Linked DNA regions of Homo sapiens: region 2 is linked to region 1. Evidence: fine-mapped expression QTL. Tissue or cell type: whole blood. Region 1 holds a variant in brackets; the other region holds the start of a gene. All regions are shown on one strand. Distances are between the middles of the regions.

Evidence for each region. PIP is the estimated chance that this variant, and not a neighbour inherited with it, causes the effect.
Region 2: it holds the start of ZNF501, and the variant in region 1 is the best candidate, but not a certain one, in a credible set for the expression of ZNF501 in whole blood (TOPMed, PIP 0.55).

What each region holds. Positions count from the first base shown.
Region 1 is chr3:44,783,511-44,794,909 of GRCh38, forward strand. KIF15 (kinesin family member 15) reads left to right here. Exons shown (of 35, transcript NM_020242.3): 6 at 1,335-1,432; 7 at 2,885-3,064; 8 at 10,707-10,916. Among named protein-coding and RNA genes, the nearest start is that of KIF15, 27 kb to the left of the region's middle. The variant A/C (reference allele first, on the strand shown) is at 5,639.
Region 2 is chr3:44,724,874-44,732,573 of GRCh38, forward strand. ZNF501 (zinc finger protein 501) reads left to right here and starts at 4,762. Exons shown (of 3, transcript NM_001258280.2): 1 at 4,762-5,142; 2 at 6,603-6,687. It overlaps LOC105377056 (a long non-coding RNA gene), which reads right to left and starts at 4,653. Exons shown (of 3, transcript XR_940788.4): 1 at 3,919-4,653; 2 at 806-997. RefSeq lists an enhancer at 4,573-4,642.

The DNA.
Region 1 (11,399 bases):
AATGTCCCAGCAGGCGACACCTCCAACAGTGGGGATCAAATTTCAACATGAGAATTGGGGCAAAACATACTATATCTTTATATAATATATTCTTCAATGGGAAAATGATGTAAAATTATCTACATGTTCTAATATTCATTCTCTTTATTTACTTGCATTTTTCTACCTCTGTTATATATTTCTTAAGCTACAGATTACAAGGACCATTTTAAATATTCCAGGTGTGGTACAAGGCCTTCTACCAAAGACAACTATTATATTTTAAAATTTATTCTCTATTTTTCTTGTGCATGTCAGCATTTTGTTAGTTCCTTTGGTCTCTAAGGCATACTTCACCAATATTTTGATTGTTAAATAGATCTAGATCTTTTCTAGCTATATATACTTTTCTGGTAAATATTGCTATAACTTGAATTAGAATTCCTTAGAATCCTGCTATTTGCATATCCACTCTTCCTTTTCCCAGTGTAACAAAATAGAGACTCTGCATTTTTCTGTCTATGTGGAAATCTTGTAAGATATTCTTACAGTACTTTTCTTACCAGCTTGGCTTTTATTGCCTAATTTTAAAAAAATCAACTAGCTAATCCTGATTTTTAGTACTTAATGTGTTTAAAGCACTAACATGGCTCTAAGTGCTTTACCTTTACACTCTCAGTTAATTCTTTCTTTTTGTTTTGAGACGGAGTCTCACTCTGTCGCCCAGGCTGGAGTGCAGTGGCGCCATCTCGGCTCACTGCAAGCTCCGCCTCCCAGGTTCACGCCATTCTCCTGCCTCAGCCTCTCCGAGTAGCTGGGACTACAGGCGCCCGCTACCACGCCCGGCTACTTTTTTTTTTGTATTTTTAGTAACGATGGGATTTCATCGTGATCTCGATCTCCTGAACTTGTGATCCGCCCGCCTCAGCTTCCCAAAGTGCTGGGATTACAAGCGTGAGCCACTGCGCCTGGCCTCTCAGTTAATTCTTTCCAATAACCCTATGTGATATTTATTACCATTATTATCCCCATTTTATAATTGAGAACTCTGCAGCTTAAGAGGGATTTAGTAATTAGCCTATGGTCACACAGTATGGGGCCAAGGCCTGGAGCACAGGTCAGTCTATGAGACCAAATGTGCTGCAATAAAGGACAATTATTTGATATTCCTGCAGATTTTGGTACCTGGCAGTTGGAAAAATTTCAATTTCTCTCACAGACCTAGATTTAACTTGCTTGGAGCACAAGTAGGAAACTGATTGTATGGTGTATCATCTAATTTCTGTGTAAATTGCCATTTTGAAAGACTCTTGGAATAGAATAAAAATCCAGTGTTTTTTTTTTCATTTTTTTAGGACCATCTGAATCTGATAATTTTTCTCATAACCTGAGAGGAGTAATCCCACGAAGTTTTGAATATTTGTTTTCCTTAATTGATCGTGAAAAAGAAAAGGTAAAACAATGTAAAAATAAAGTGGTTCTATGAAATGTCTAATTTTGAATAGGTAGCTACTGATAATTAGCTCATGATACATGGTGGAGCATGGATGGTACTCTACAATATGAATAGACTAGCGTGGCATAAAAAAAAACCTTTCAATTCTGAGGATAATATTAAGGATTCTGAGTTGTTTTATCTCAACTGAGTTTTTAGTTTATAAAACATGCATTATCCTTTATCCCAAATTGCTGGTTTACAAGAAAGGAAAATAGTGCTTCTGAGGCTCTCAAAAAAAGATTTTGTAAGAGAGAAACTGTAAAGAAAATCTCAACTGAGGAAAACAGATACATTAATACACTAAGCCTAATCATCTACCTGTACCTAGGCTCACAGGTGACTGCAGGTGTCCCTAAATCCTCATGACATCCAGCAGTGATGGACTCATCCTCACCACCTTTGTAGCACCTGCTACTGCCTTCCATGATCTTTGTGCTCCACATGTGGTATGGCTCCATCACCCTGGGGATATGGTCTTTCCTCTTGCATTGGCTCCCAGGTTGGGCCTTCTCACAGTTGTGCTGATTTAGCTTGGTGAATTCGGGGCTTAGAACCATTAGTGTTTTATGTTCCATTACTTGTGTACCAAAGAAATATATAACATTGGTTTACCATTTACTCCTTTGCAGAAATCACCTAACACTGAAATTAGACACACAAATTGTATGGCAGTGAAATAATTTAGTACCATGCATTTCTATGGTTAAAAATCCTATAAAGTCTTTTAAAATAAATTATTTTCAATCGTTTGAAGAACATAACACTTGCTTCAAATAAAACTTTATGAGGACATCAAATATATAAGACAGACAAAAATGGAATTTCCCAACTGGACTGCTCAATTCTCCTCCCCCTGTATTAGCTCCCAGGCACCTGTGGAGGCCTCTAGGGTGCCTGGCACCACAGTTTGATGCAGCTCTAAAATATAATGATGTGTTAAAACTAGTTATCAGCTGAGCACGGTGGCTCACGCCTGTAATCCCAGCACTTTGGGAGGCCGAGGCAAATCACGAGGTCAGGAGATCGAGACCATCCTGGCTAACACAGTGAAACCCCGTCTCTACTAAAAATACAAAAAATTAGCCGGGCGTGGTGGCGGGCACCTGTAGTCCCAGCTACTCGGGAGGCTGAGGCAGAAGAATGGCGTGAACCTGGGAGGCAGAGCTTGCAGTGAGCCAAGATCGCGCCACTGCACTGCAGCCTGGACAACAGAGTGAGACTCCATCTCAAACAAAACAAAAAAACTATTTATCTAGATTTTTTTTACTTTTAGGTATCTTATATTGTATTAAAGGATAATAGCATAGGAAATTTACATCTTGTGAAGCGAGTGCAAAATTAATGCTCATGAAAACTAGGTATGAACACATGAAAATAATGTATCTAAATGAGGCTTCTTTTTTACAGGCTGGAGCTGGAAAGAGTTTCCTTTGTAAGTGTTCCTTTATTGAAATCTACAACGAGCAGATATATGATCTACTGGACTCTGCATCGGCTGGACTGTACTTAAGGGAGCATATCAAGAAGGGAGTCTTTGTTGTTGGTGCGGTGGAGCAGGTGGTAACCTCAGCTGCTGAAGCCTATCAGGTACCCTGCCATGAGTACTTAATTGGTGCTTAGGCAACAAACCTGCTGTGAATGCACCCCAAACTCCAAAAAGTGACAATTGAGGTACCAAAAATATGTCATAAAGGCATAATACAGAATGTTCATGGGAAGTAAAGATAAAATAATATGGCAGTATTTTCTTTTCCAAGAGTCTTTCAAAATGGAACCTCGAAAGGGCAATTTATACAGAAATAAGATGATACATTGTATCATCAGTTTCTTACTTGTCCATATGTTTTTAGTGGTTCCTCCTGGGAGATGCCTGTTTGAGGGGCTTCTGGGAACTCTGGCCTTTAAACCAGCTGGCTGTTCTTTTCTACGTTGCTTGCTTGTTAGGTGTCAAAAGCTAACTTACCTTGAGCATTCAGCTCAGGACAAGCAAACCTCTTGACAGGAATTTACAAAATATTCTAGATATGTTTTTATGAAATCTGATCTGGCTTAATGATTTGAAAGTTTTTTATTATGAAGCATTTGACACATATGAAATATTGCCACAAGCATGTAAGTTACCAAGCATAATGTTAAAGTGAACTTTCAGGAGGCTTTTAGACAATTTAAAGACCCTGGTATCACCAGTACTATCCGATTTACTGGTGATATTTGGTTCTTTAAATATGCTATAAATAGGTAAATAGGATACCTGTCCTCCCTATCCCATATCCCTGGCTCTTCCCCAAAATTAAGCACTAAGTTGAATGTCATTATCATTTTCTTCCACTTTTAAATCACATATGTATGTGGTTTTGCCTGTTTTTGAGTTTGAAAAACACATATTTAGCTTTCTATGACTTTTAAAACTCAATGTGGTTTATGAAATCTACGTTGCATTTCATTTATTTTCACTGCTGTATGATATTTTATAATTTATTCTTTTATCTTCAATAAAAGATGGAATCAAGTCTCTTGATTCCAGCTGTTTAAATTGAGACTCCCCCCGGCGAGAGATAGGTTGTACATGTGACGTAGTATGTGTATACATACATACTCAAAAATTTGTGTTGGGTTTTTTATTGGAATTACATTGCAGTTATAGACCAGTCTGGAGGGATTAACAATTCTTTTTACAATGTTTTACAATATTCAGTCCATACATTAGCATAGTATGTCTCCTCTTTTTAGATCTTTAATGTCTTGCAATATAATTTTAATAATTTTCATCATAAAAGTCACACATACTTTTTGTTAACTTTATTCCAGTATACCTTATGTTTTTAGTTTCTCTAATAATCTCTTTCTTATTTTCATTTTTATTTATTTTTTTATTTGTTTTTTTGGAGACAGAATCTTGCTCTGTCACCCAGGCTGGAGTGCAGTGGTGCAATCTTGGCTCACTGCAACCTCCGCCTCCTAGGTTCAAGCAATTCTCGTGCCTTAGCCTCCCAAGTAGGTGAGACTACAGGCGCGCACTGCCATGCCTGGCTAATTTTTTGTATTTCAGGAGAGACGGTTTCACCATGTTGCCCAGGCTGGTCTTGAACTCCTGAGCTCAGGCAATCCACCTGCCTTGGCCTCCCAAAGTGCTAGGATTATAGGCATGAGCTACCGTGCCCGGCACATAATCTCTTTTTTAAATTACATTTAGTGTTTGGTGTGTATAGAAATGCAGTTGATTTTTATAAGATGCTTTTATAATCAGCCACCTTGCTGTCTTAAAAAATCAAGAATGTGTGTTAAAGTTTTGTTTGATGCTTTTTCCACCATTGTTGAGATAATCTTGTGCTTTTTCTTCTTTAACATGTTAACACGATAAAGTACTCGATTAAGATTTGCTATTATTTTGTTTAGTGTTTTTCATAAATTTAAAAAATTGAGATCAATCTGTAATTTCCTTTGTCCTATTCCTTTTTTCTTTTTTTCTTTTTCTTTTTTTTTTGAGACAGGGTCTCGCTCTGTCACCCAGGCCAGAGTACAAGTGGCAGAATCATGGTTCACTGCAGCCTTGACCTCCTGGGCTTAACAGATCCTCCCACCTCAGCCTCCCTAGTAGCTGAGACTGCAAGTGCACAGCATTATGTCTGGCTGATTTTTGAATGTTTTTGTAGAGATGAGGTTTAGCCATGTTGTCCAGGCCAGTCTTGAACTCCTGGGCTCAAGCATTTCACCTTGCCTCAGCCTCCCACTATAGGCGTGAGACACTGCACCTGGCCCTATTCTCTTTGTCTTGTTTTATTATCAATGTTACTTGTTTTCTGAAAGTATTTGTGCCTGGGATGACTTATTCTTAGAATACATAGTAGAACTCATCTGAAAAATTATCTGGGTCTTGTGAGATTTTTAACTACAAAACAATATTTTAATAGAGCCATGCAGCCATGTTATTTCTTCTTGGGTCAGTGTTAGTAAGTTATGTATTTTAGAAAAATTTCAATTTCCTCTTAGTTTTCAAGTATATTGGCATAAAGTTGTTCCTAGTATTCACATTTTTACAATCTTTGCCATACTGCCATTCTGTTTCCTTTTTACACAGTTGTTATTGTTTATATGGACTTGCTCTTTAATATTTTCTTTGTTTTCAGTTTATCCTGGGTTTATCATGCTGTTCTTTTTCCA[A/C]CTTCTTAAGCTGGATGTTTACTCACGTTGGCATTTCTTTTGTGATATAAGTATTTAATACTATAAATTTTTACTTCTTAATACTTCTTTAACTTCACACAAGTTTTAATATTTTAATTACGGTGTAGATCCAAATATTTTTCTACTATAATTTTTTTTGACTCATGAATTACTTAGAAATGTGATTTTAAATTCCAAAGCGTGTGAGGATTTCTAACTTATTTCTCACATTGATTCTCAATTGCATTGGGATCGAAGAATGTGGTCTTATGTGACATCTAGTCTTTGAGTTTTTTTTGAGACATAATTTATGGATTAATAACCTTTTTCTTAAGTGTGTCATGTGTGCTTGAGAAGAATATGTATCCTTGGTACAAGGTTTTATATTTTTGCTAGTTTTCTTGTCCGTGTAATCTATTGATACTTCAGAGAGATGCACTGATTTCCCACTAAGGTGTTGGTTTTTCAGTTTCATTGCGATTTTTGTCTAATTTTATATATATATATATATATATATATATATATATATATATATATATATATAAAATAGATACATACACATATGGAAACACAACAAGTCCTCACTTAACATCCTTATAGGTTCTTGGAAACTGACTTTAAGTGAAACGATGTATAATAAAACCAATTTTACTACAGGCTAATTGATACAAAGAAGAGTTAAGTTCCTACTGCATATTTCCAGTCATAAAAGCATCACCAAACTTCTCAATAAGAACCCAACACACTTCTAATATTAAACATTGAAATAAATGTCAACTATACATTTATTTTAAAAAGAATAATAACAACTAAGATAATTATTTACCCAGGTTTTGGTGGATAAGTGAGTGATGGCAGTCATGGTGTTGGGTTAAATCGGGAATAAATGTTTGCAAAGTAGAAATTGTCAGGAGCACTTCCTACCACCATACAGTTCAGAAACAAACAATAACAAATATGGCGGGCTCACTGAGTACTTTCATACTGCATTGTTTATTGTCCTGTATTTGTATGAGTATCATATACTTTATGACATTTTTTTTTTTTGAGACGGAGTCTCACTCTCTCTCCAAGGCTAGAGTGTAGTGGTGCGATCTTGGCTTACTTCAACCTCTGCCTCCTGGGTTCAAACGATTCTTGTGCCTCAGCCTCCTGAGCAGCTAGGACTACAGGCTTGTGCCACCACACCCGGCTAAATTTTTGTATTTTTATTAGAGATGGGGTTTTGTCATGTTGGCCGGGCTGGTCTTTACACAGACAGTTGCCCCGGGTGGAAATCATTTTATTTTCTCAAGTTCACAACAAAATAACACTGAATGAAGTGAAATGGAGGACCTGCTGTGGACTCCTTTATTAGGTATATATACAAGTGTAGAATTAGTATATATCTTCCTTTTATTTTCACCTATAATTATTTATTGATTCTGTACTTTCCTATCAACACATTTTGCTTTACAAATCTGTTTTGTCTGATGTTCACCTACCACTGAACATTCTTTTGATTACCATTTGCCTGGTATACGTTTTCCCATCAGTTTTTCTGTTTCTTTTTTTTTTTTTTTTTTTTTTGAGTCTCGCTCTGTCGCCAGGCTAGAGTGCAGTGGCATGATCTCGGCTCACTGCAACCTCTGCCTCCCAGGTTCAAGCTATTCTCCTGCCCCAGCCTCCCGAGTAGCTGGGACTACAGGCATGCGCCACCACGCCCTGTTAATTTTTGTATTTTTAGTAGAGATGAGGTTGGCCAGGATGGTCTCTATCTCTTGACCCCGTGATCTGCCTGCCTCGGCCTCCCAAAGTGCTGGGATTACAGGCGCGAGCCACTGGGCCCGGCCCCTTCTGTTTCTTAATGTTTTAGGTGTTTATTGTAAACCACATAGCTATACTTTGCTCGTTTTTTTAACTGCTCATGACAGTACCTTACCTAATTTATTTACATTACTATATGATTGTTGATATTCTTAGACTGGTTTCTACCATCTTTCTTAGTGTGTTTTGCCTGTTTCATCTAATACTTCCTTCTCTTTTCTTGCCTTTTTGTTTTTGATCCAGTATGCAGCATGATTTATTGAAAAAAACTCTTTTTCCTATTACATTGCCTTTGCATCTTTGGTGAATTGACTGTACACATATGGGTTTATATCTAACTGTATTCTGTTCTGTTGATCTATATGTTTCTTTTCATCAATATTAAATGGTCTTGATTATTATATAACTTGTTGCTAAGTAGTGTCTTTAGATCAGGTAGGGTAAGTCCTCCAACACTGTTCTTTTTAACAATTATTTTGGTTATTCATTGTCCTTTGCATTTTCATTTACATAGAACCAGTTTGTCAATTTCTACAAAATAGGCTGCTGGGATTTTGAGTGGGGTTGTGTTGAATCTATCAATTATTTTTGGTAGAACTGGCATCTTAACAATATTGAGTCTCCCAATCTATGAACACTCACCAGGTATTTTTGTTTTTGATTTTTTATTTTGATTTTTGTAGAAGTATTCAGGCAAACATGCTTGTATTTGCTTTTTCCCCTTATGTTACACAAGTGACAGCATACTGTGCTATTTTTATACCTTGCCTTTTTTATTTTGGAGACCAAGTCTCGCTGTTTTGCCCAGGCTGGAGTGCAATGGCATGATCTCAGCTCAATGCAACCTCCACCTCCTGGGTTCAAGAGATTCTCCTGCCTCAGCCTCCCGAGTAGTTGGGATTATAGCTGTCTGCCACCACGCCCAGCTAAATTTTGTATTTTTTAGTAGAGACGGGGTTTCACCATGTTGGTCAGGCTGGTCTTGAACTCCTGACCTCAGGTAATCCACCTGCCTTGGCCTCCCAAAGTGCTGGGATTACAGGCGTGAGCCATAGTGCCCGGCCGCTTTTTTTAGATAATAGTATTTTGGAATTTGTCTCAGTTTGGAGGATCTCTCTCTCTCTCTTGTTTTTTGTAGCTGTATGAATGTATCAGATGTATTTAATATGTAATATACAGTATTTAATGTTATAAAAAGAAAGCATAAAGTACTATCCAAGAAACATAACAGATACAAATAGCTGGGCGCAGTGGCTTACTCCTGTAATCCCAGCCTCTTTGGGAGGCCAAGGTGGTGGATCACTTGAGGTCAGGAGTTCAAGACCAGCCTGGCCAACATGATGAAACCCTGTCTCTATTAAAAATACAAAAAAATTAGGCATGGTGATGCATGCCTGTACTCCCACCTACTCTGGAGGCTGAGGTGGGAGGATCATTTGAGCCTGGGAGGCAGAGATTTCAGTGAGACATGAACATGTCACTACACTCCAGCCTGGGTAACAAAGTGAGACTCTGTCTTAAAAAAAAGAAAAAAGATACAAATAATTTCAGTTTTATACTGTTGCTGATTAATAGGGTTATAACAGCTACGAATTTTTTTTTTTTTTTTGTGATGAGACAGAGTCTCTGTTGCCCAGGCTGGAGCGGAATGGCCCGATCTTGGCTCACTGCAACTTCTACCTCCCGGGTTCAAGCGATTCTCCTGCCTCAGCCTCCCGAGTAGCTGGGACTACAGGTGCATGCCACCACACCCGGCTAATTTTTTATATTTTTAGCGGAGACGGGGTTTCACCGTGTTAGCCAGACTGGTCTCGGTCTCCTGACCTCATGATCCACCCACCTGGGCCTCCCAAAGTGCTGGAATTACAGGCGTGAGCCACCGTGCCCTGCCAACAGCTATGATTTATTGAGTGAAGGTGCCAAGCACTGTGCTAACTTCTTTTGTATACATTATTTTACTTAATTTTCAATATGCCCTTTGAGATAAAGACACTAATTTCCCCATTTTACCCTATATATACTGTTACCCTCCTACCCAAAATGTGGTCCTCAGAACATCAGCATCACCTGAGAGCTTGTTAGAAATGCAAAATCTCAGGCCCCACCTCACACTGAATCTGAATCTGAATTTTAACAACATCTGTAGATGATTCATATGCACCTAAAACTTATATGTTCTGTTCTATGGGATAGGTACCCATATTCCCATTTTACAAATATGAAGGCTGAGGCTTGAAAAGGTTCAGCTGGCCCCAGACCTCGCCTAGTAAATAGTGGAGCCATGGTTTGAACTCATATGCATCTGATTCCAGAGCCTGCATTCTGAACTTTCATGTATCCTGCTTGCCATAGGGAATAGAAGGGAAAAAATACTTTGTAGACCAAAAGCTTACAAAACTTTGGGCTTAAAGATAATTTACAGATTTTTCCTGTCCAACATTCTCATTTTCTAGGTAAAGAAATGGGTTCAGAGAGGTTTTGTGATTTACATTAGGTTAACACAAATAAAGCGTGGCAAAACCAGTTCTAGATCCTATGCGCTCTGATTTCCTGTTTGTTCTGTTTCTGTAATGTGGAAAGGGAACACAAAGGAAAGGAAAATAACTTCAGCTTATTCCTTAATGGACCAGTAATCTTTCTCACCACCCTTTACAAATTTCCTACTGATTTTGGTGGCTGTTGTGTACCATTTGGAACTTGGGATAATATAATTTATCTTATAAAGCTAGATAACAATGGAAGGCAATAGATACTCCTCACCCCTGTTCTAAATAGAAAATATGCTTTATGTAAATATATTTCTTTTTCCCTATGAAAGTAGATAATTAGCTGTATGTTAGTATTTTTCATAATAAAATGAGTGATTCTCAAGTGCTTATTTTACATTTTAAGTGTACCTATTCTTGTTCCTTTTTTTTTCTCTTTTCCTTTTTTTTTTTTTTTTAAGATAGGATCTTGCCCTGCTGCTCAGGCTGGAGTGCAGTGGCACAATCATGGCTCACTGCAGCCTTGAATTCCTGGGCTCAAGAGATCTTCCCACCTCAGCCTCCCGAGTAGCTAGGACTACAGGTTCCTGCCACTGTACATAGCAAATTATTATTTTTTGTAGAGGTGAGGTCTCACACTATGTAGGTCAGGCTGGTCTTGAATTCCTATCCACAAGTGATCCTCCAGACATGGCCTCCCAAACTGCTAGGATTACAGGCATAAGCCACTGTAACTGGTCCTCTCATTTCTTTTAATATGTTTTCCTTTTGCATAGGTGTTGTCTGGAGGATGGAGGAATAGACGTGTGGCATCAACATCAATGAACAGAGAATCGTCTAGGTCTCATGCCGTCTTTACAATTACAATAGAGTCAATGGAGAAAAGTAATGAGATTGTGAATATACGGACCTCCCTACTCAACCTGGTGGATTTAGCAGGATCTGAAAGGCAAAAAGATACCCATGCAGAAGGGATGAGATTGAAGGTAAGAATGAAATTATGGTCTTCAACTTGTGTGTGAGTTCTTACTAGCAGTCAATACAGTCGTGATGCATGACAGTGTCTCAGTCAATGAGGAACTGCATTTATGATGGGGGTCCCTTAAGAGTATAATAGCTATACCACATGGCTTAGGTATGTTGTAGGCTATACCATCTCGGTTTGCATAAGTATATTCTATGATGCCCACAAAACAATCAAATTTCCTAACAGCACATTTCTTAAAATGTACCCCTGTTAGCCGGGCGCGGTGGCTCACACCTGTAATCCCAGCACTTTGGGAAGCTGAGGCAGGTAGATCACGAGGTCAGGAGATCGAGACCATCCTGGCCAACGTGGTGAAATCCCGTCTCTACTAAAAAAATACAAAAGTCAGCTGGGCGTGGTGATGCGCGCCTGTAGTCCCAGCTACTTGGGAGACTGAGGCAGGAGAATCACTTGAACCTGGGAGGCCGAGGTTGCAGTGAGC
Region 2 (7,700 bases), 60 kb before region 1:
AATTTTTTTTTTTTGAGACAGGATCTCACTCTGTTGTCCAGGCTGGAATGCAATGGCATGGTCTCTGCTTACTGCAAACCCCCACCTCCCAGGCTCAAGCGATCCTCCCATTTCAGCCTCCCAAATAGCTGGGACTACAGGCATGTGCCACTATCCTTGGCTAATTTTTATATTTTTTTGTAGTGATGGGTTTCACCATGTTGCTCAGGCTGGTCTCGGACTCCTGGGCTCAAGCAATCTGCCTGCCTCAGCCACCCAAAGTGCTGGGATTATAGGCATAAGCCACTGTGCCTGGACTTCCTATTTTAAAATTTATCTACCAGTCTTCCAGTTTCTTGCCCCACTAGGCCATCTTTCACATTTCTTCTTGATCTTTATAAGCATAACTGGCTGCTTATTGTTTTCGGAATAAAGCACTAGTCCTTTAAAGAGGCAGGTGAGGCCCCTCATCTGACCCATGCCTGAATTGCCATCCTTAGCTGCCATTCCTTGCCTGGCATGTTCTATTCCATAGTTCAAATTCCTGTGATTCTGGAATATCACCTCTGGACTCTATTTTGGCACTTCCGCACATAGTGTTCCTATTGCCTCAGTTCCTTTTCCCTGCTTCTGCTTGCCTGCAAAACTCCCATTTTTCACTTACGAGTGTGCTCAGGCAATATCTCAAAGCTGTCTCTAACCTCATGTATTTTTTATTCTGTCTTGTATTTTTCATCATTTTATTATGTTACATTATAATGGTTTGTTCACACATCTTTCCCTTTGTCAGCTTTGCTAGGGAAGGAACAATGTGAAATTTCTTTACCTTTGTATCAACAGTGCCTGGTACTTAGGAGGTGCTCAATAAGCATTTGTTGAACTCAACTGAAGAGTCAGACATTTCTCTGTGCTAGTCTGCAGGTTGTGACTTAAGTCCCCAGTTGTCAGCAGGAAGGAGGCATGGTGAGTATGCGTGTCCACGAAGTGTCTGCCAGGAGCAACAGTTCTGAAACTTTCCCTAAGATTGTATTAAACAGAAGATCCCATAAGAAACAATATTTTTCAATTAGAGATTTAAAAGTCCTATCACAATTTAACTAAACGCTTTCAATTATATTGATGTCAGGGTCAACAGGAGGAAAATGCATGCAACTGCAGAAACACACCTGTGTCAACTGGAATACCTATGAAATAGCAGGAACTGAAGAGTAATGCTGGCCTAGCAGGAGGGCATTTGCAGTTTACAAATCCCAAACTGGGCCAGGCATGGTGGCTTGCACCTGTAATCCCAACTACTCAGGAGTCTGAGGTGGGAGGATTGATTCAGGCCAGGAGTTCAAGAGCATCCTGTGGAACATAACAAGACCTTGTCTAAAAAAAATAAATAAATAAATAAATAAATAAATAAATAAACCAGGTATGGTGGTGCATGCCTGTAGTCCTAGCTATTCTGGATGCTGAGCCTGAGGTGGAAGGATCGCTTGAGCCCAGGTGTTGGGAGCTGCAGTGAGCTAGCATCATGCCACTGCACTCTAGCCTGCGTATCAGAGAGTGAGACCCTCTCTCTTAAAAAAAAAAAAAAAAAAAAAAAAAAAAAAAAAAAAAGTACCAAAGTGGAAGCACTTCCTGAGATTTTGGGCCCTGGGATGATAAAGAATTTGAGTGTCTTGCTTATTGTGCACTGAAATTTAATTCATGACTTTAGAAGGACACAGATGGAGCCACGTCAGATCCTCAGAACAAAAGAGAAAAGATGTTGGGGTTGCTCAAGACCACACAACCAGTGTCAGATGAGGTTTAAACTGCAGTGTCCTTGCATTTCATTTACTTTTCCCTGTATTGGTCATACCTCTATTCCATATGCCTCTTTATTTTTTATAGAACTGACTACTTTTTTTTGTTTCTGAGATGGTTTCGGTCTGTTGCCCAGGCTGGAGTGCAGTAGCGTGATCCTAGCTCACTGTAGCCTAGACCTCCCAGGCTCAAGCGATTCTCTCACCTCAGCCTCCCAAGCAGTTGGGACTACAGGCGTGAGCTACCATGCCTGGCTAATTTTTAAAAAGTATTCTCTGGCCGGGTGCGGTGGCTCACGCCTGTAATCCCAGCACTTTGGGAGGCCAAGGCAGGCGGATCACAAGGTCAGGAGTTTGAGACCAGCCTGACCAACATGGTGAAACCCCGTCTCTACTAAAAATATGAAAATTAGCCAGGCATGGTGGCGCGTGCCTGTAATCCCAGCTACTAAGGAGACTGAGGCAGGAGAATTGCTTGAACCCAGGAGGCAGAGGTTGCAGTGAGCCAAGATCATGCCACTGCACTCCAGCCTGGGTGACAGAGTGAGAGTCTGTCTCAAAAAAAAGTTTTTTAATATTATTTTTTGGTACAGACAGATTCTTGCTATGTTACCCAGGCTCATCTCTAACTCCTGCCCTCAGATGATCCTCCTAACTCGGACTCCCTTACAGGCCTGAGCCACTGCATCCAGCCTAGAATTGACCACTTAGTGCTCCAATCTTTTCCTTATCCTGAGGATGTGAGGAGCTCACTTGTATAAGATTGAGAAGCTTTTTGTTCTCAAAATCTCAGACTTTCCTGAGTGTGAGGGTGACAAGTAAGTTGATGATACCTTTTGACCCCTACTTTCTACATAAGGTAGAAACCTAATCTTGACGATATGTGGCATTAGTTTCATTTATCCAGTGGCCACATCAGGGCTAAGGTTATTTTAGTGTTTTGGAACGTTTTTGGTGTCCATCCCTACCATCCGTTTTCCACCTCATTGAAAGAAGCTCAGCCCAAACTGCTATTAAACTCCAGATTACGGTTTCTAGTAACCTCAGGTGCCTCCCTCCAGACTTAATGTCCTCCACACACTACACCCTGCTGATTTGGAGACTCTTTGAAGCCTAATGTTTGGGGAATGAATAATTAGACCTAGGGTCTCTGGCCTGTGAGATGTTAGGGCTGGAGGGAAGAACTTGCTATCTGATTCCAAAGAAGTGCTGAGAATGTGACACCTGGAGAGGGAAACTTAACATTATTGTTACATGGCATGTCAACTGACAATTTTACAAAGGGTCACTTTTTAGCCAAAGATAGCGATGGCCTCAGTCTGTGGCACCAGCATTCCTGATTTGTGTCCAAAAGGGACTCCATTTTGGGAAAACAGCCAATCTGAAGATTGGAATGGATATTTTTTTTTTTTTTTAAGATGGAGTCTGGCTCTGTCACCCAGGCTGGAGTGCAGTGGCATGATCTCGGCTCACTGCAAGTCCGCCTCCCAGGTTCAAGTGATTCTCCTGCCTCACCCTCCTGAGTAGCTGGGATTACAGGGGCACACCACCACGCCCGGCTAATTTTTGTATCTTTAGTAGAGACGGGGTTTCGCCATGTTGGTCAGGCTGGTCTCAAACTCCTGACCTCGTGATCCGCCCCCCATGGCCTCCCAAAGTGCTGGGATTACAGGTGTGAGCCACCATGCCTGGCCTGGAATGGATAATTTCTCTGCTGCATCTCATTAATTTATACAGCAAGTGTTCACTTCTATATGCTGCACACTAGGGATATGATGGTGTGCACACAGCCCTATTGTCCTGAGATTGCAGATCAGTAGGAATGCTTGGAAGTGAATAAGGTACTCTCCACTCATGCCTTTATCTCTGGACTTTACCTGTCAAGATGAGCCCATGTGTGCAAATATTTCCTGAGTTAGAGCCAGCAAGATCTGAAGTTTTGTAGAAAGGGATGGGTGTGCTACCTTGAGGCCCTGAAAGGTCAGTGAAGTCAGGGCAGAACAATAGGTACTGGAGCTGGGATTTGAGACACAGACAATAGTCCTAACATTTACTGAAGATTTAAAAAATACTAGATGTTCTTAGTAATTCACACGTATTAACCTCACTTAATCCTCACAACAACCCTGTGGTACCATTATTATACCTGGTAAGTGAGGAAGCAGGCACAGAGAGGTAAAGTTGCAAAGTTCATACACTGAGAATCAGGGATTTGAGCCCAAAGCAGTGTTTGATTTGTTTTGTTTTGTTTTTGAGACAGAGTCTCACTCTATCACCCAAGCTGGAGTGCAGTGGCTCAGTCTCTGCTCACTGCAACCTCCCCCTCCCAGGTTCAAGTGATTCTCGCGCCTCAGCCTCCGGAGTAGCTGGAATTACAGGCGCCCACCAGCACACCCGGCTGATTTTTGTATTTTTAGTAGAGACAGGGTTTCTCCATGTTGGGCAGGCTGGTCTTGAACTCCTGACCTCAGGTGATCCGCCCGCCTCGGCCTCCCAAAGTGCTGGGATTACAGGAGTGAGCCACCGCGCCTGGCCTGCAGAACTTTTTCTTTTGGCCACCTGAACAAAGATCCTGGGTCAGTAAGGTGTCAGGGGTTTCTGTGAAGAGGTCAGTTTTCTTCCAGATGAGGATGTGTGTGAGGAAGGTGGAAGCCAGTTTTGTGAAAAGCCTTGAGAATCCCCAAAGGACAGTAACATAGGAAGCTAAATGTGGCGGACTTGCAGGATGAACTGATGCACAGTAAGAGCTCCTTGTGGTCGACCCTTCTGACTTCCATCCCGTTTCCCTGTGCTGGAAGACGCACGCCAGGTGGGGTCGCAGGTTGTTTCTGGTGCCGGCTTAACCGGCGCAGCACCGAAACCCGTAGCTGCGTGCGGGAAGGAACCACCGAGCGGAAGCCGCTCCCACCTTCCTAGAGAGGAGACGGTAGTGGTTATTAGCCGAGGCGCGGACTGCTGACGTCACGCCGGCTGGGCGCGTCCGGGACTTACTCCTTTCCGCAGGGCAGCACCCAGGGACCTGAGTGTTGCAAGGTGCGAGAGGGGAGCGCCGCGGGGAGCGCCGCGGGAAGCGCATGGTGAGCGGTTTCTGCTGTGCCCGGCTGCCGCGGGTCGATTCCAGCTCCTCCCTCGGGAAGCAGGGCGTTTTTCTTCCTGGAGGGCCTGTGGAGCGGAGGCCCGAGGCCTAGGGCAAACTTGCCATGAAGAAAGGAGAGGCTGTTCGAGAGCCCTAGGCTGGGAGTCGGAGGACCTGGGTTCGATTTATACATACTTAAGCATGTCAGTGAACTTCTGGGCACTTTAGTTTTCTGATTTCCAGAAGTAAATACTGTTTCCTGCCTTGCCGTTTCCCAAAGTTGTGCGGGTTGAAGTAAGTATATGCAAGAATTAGTGCCTTCCCTTCATTATTTATTCTTCTCTAACAACAACAAAATAGGTACCGTATGAAGACATGTAGACTCAATACTTTAACAGCAGGCACTATTTATTGAATGCTTACCAGCTGGCATTCTTCTAAGTAGTTGCCATGTAGTAACCCACTTATTCATTACGACAACCCTATAAAGTAGTTACTGGTATCGTCTCCATTTAACAGTTGAAAAAACTGGAGCAAAAAAAGGTTAGGTAACTTGTTCAAAAGTCCTAGTCCTGGAGCCCATGCCATACTTGTAAGTTTGCTGGTGGAAGACAGAATGTAATCAGACTAGAAAGTCCTACAGTAGAAACTTGTAAAATTCTTTGAGAATGTAGACGAGGAAGGGCCTTGGAAAAGTCAAAATTTTCCCACAAGGAAGAGGTGTGAAGTTTCACATTTGAGCTAAATATTAAAGGTTGACTGCAAGCTTGAAAATAATTGCTGGCTTATTTGACCAAATGAGGAAATAAAAGAGACGTTTGAAAATAATTAAACAGTTTGTTCAGTGTCAGTTAAGAGATGCTAGTGGATTGGGATGTATTAGACAGGAAACCAGGTTCCTGCCTTTGAATACAGTGTTCTTTGCATTAGGAGGGTTCTTGAAACCTTTCCCTTATGAAGAGTCCTTAACATCTTACAGCAGATACTCCTTACACAAAGGCAATCCTCTTGTTATTTTCGAGAAATTCCCCCAATTCTAATTGTAGGAGGATAACTGACAGGAAGTTTCCCTGCTGTTGATTCAGCCCGTTCTTAACAAGACCCATTCACCTCACGGCTAGCTCATTTAGTACTTTTCAAATAAATGAATAAACAGATTCAATCAAAGATGGACTGGAAGGGCTTGATTTGAGGTTTTTGCTCTTTTCCCATCTGTATATAGAATCAAAGCTTTGTAGAATGTTGATATTACAAGAAGCTTTAAATATTATCTAGCTTTTCAATTTCATTTAACAAATAAGAAATGGATGAGACTGAGTGACCTGTGTTAGGTCATTGAACAAATTGGTGGCAGAGCTGAGACTAGAATCCACACCTCTTGACTGAGTCCATTACTGGTCCTACTGCCCTCTATTGTAGCCCTGCAGCATTTGACTTTTGAAATCAATGGCTTTTCCAGTAGACTTAGGGGAGCCATTGGGCTCCAACCTGATGTCGTATAAAGAAATTTTTACGCCCAGATGCTTAGTCCTAGGAAGGACCTGCCCTCTTTGTACATTGTCACATCTCTCTGAAGTCTGCCAACTCACTAATTTTTGTCACTGGAGATACTCCTCTAGGATAATAACGATATTCTTTCATTTGAACTTAAAATGGTCATTTGGTTAGAGATGGGATGTTCTTGAGTTACCCTGAATCTAGAAGGTGTAGGAAGTAGGCTGGCAATTTATGAGTGGCTCTTTTTCCTCCCTCAGTGCCTCAAATTCCTGCCTTTCCTCAAGAGAAGAGCCCCCAGGAGAAAAGCCAGTATTGCTTGTGCTCCTAACAACCTGTCTCTTGGTAAGTTAACTCTAACTAGAGAGCCCAGGATGGTGGTGGTTGTGAGACTACCATCAGAAGTGATGGCAGACCTATGGTGGGACCCACCAATGTCCACTAAATGTGGACCCAGCAGAAAATGCAGGACCACACAGAAATGGATACCATTTTACTCAAATCAGTGAGGGTGGCCCACTGTGAAAACGGCTATGGAATAATTGGTTATGGGACAGGTCCTAGAGTGCACTAAGTTCTTATCAGAGTACCTGAACTGAAGACTCTACAGTCATCTGGTAGCACATCTTTAAACCACTTATTGAACTGCTCAGTATGATGCCTTAATGGTGTAGTGGTTGGATCAAGGAATATGGGTAGTAAATTATTGGAAAACCCATTGCAAATGTGATTAGGTATTTCCTCAGAGAATATGGAATGGGCTTCTGGCCATGTTTAGAACAAGAGCTTAAGTTATTGCAGCTGACATTGTCACTGGCAATCAAAAGGCAACATGGAGCCTGGGTGTCTGTCAAACTCAGTAAAATAATTCTGGGTAAATTGTATTCTTAGGTTATGGGAACTCTGTGAAGAGAATATGACTGTGTCCTGAAGAATTTGGATTAGTTTAATATGTATGCATAATATATGTACACTTATGTACGTATTTATGTTTATATGCATCAAGAGATACCTAGAAGAAGGTCCATTAAAATACTATTATTTTCTGTGGCTGGGTTTCAAGTGATTTCCTCTTCGGAGTAGCTGACCATTTAATAGAATGAGCATGCATTCTTTGTATGATAAGAAAAAAACCTTTTTATTTTGGAAAAATGAGAGTAAAGGAATTAAAAATGTGCTTAGAGTTTTGGTTTTACATCTGGTTGCTTAAACCAACTGGAGTTTGTTTTTGTATATAGCATATCCATGTTGTAAGTTAATACATCAGATAAAGATAGGTTTAGGTAAGATAGTCCACATATTTAACAAACAGTATGGTACAGGCATTGCCCAAGCAGGTAGTCGTGAACAATTTGTAC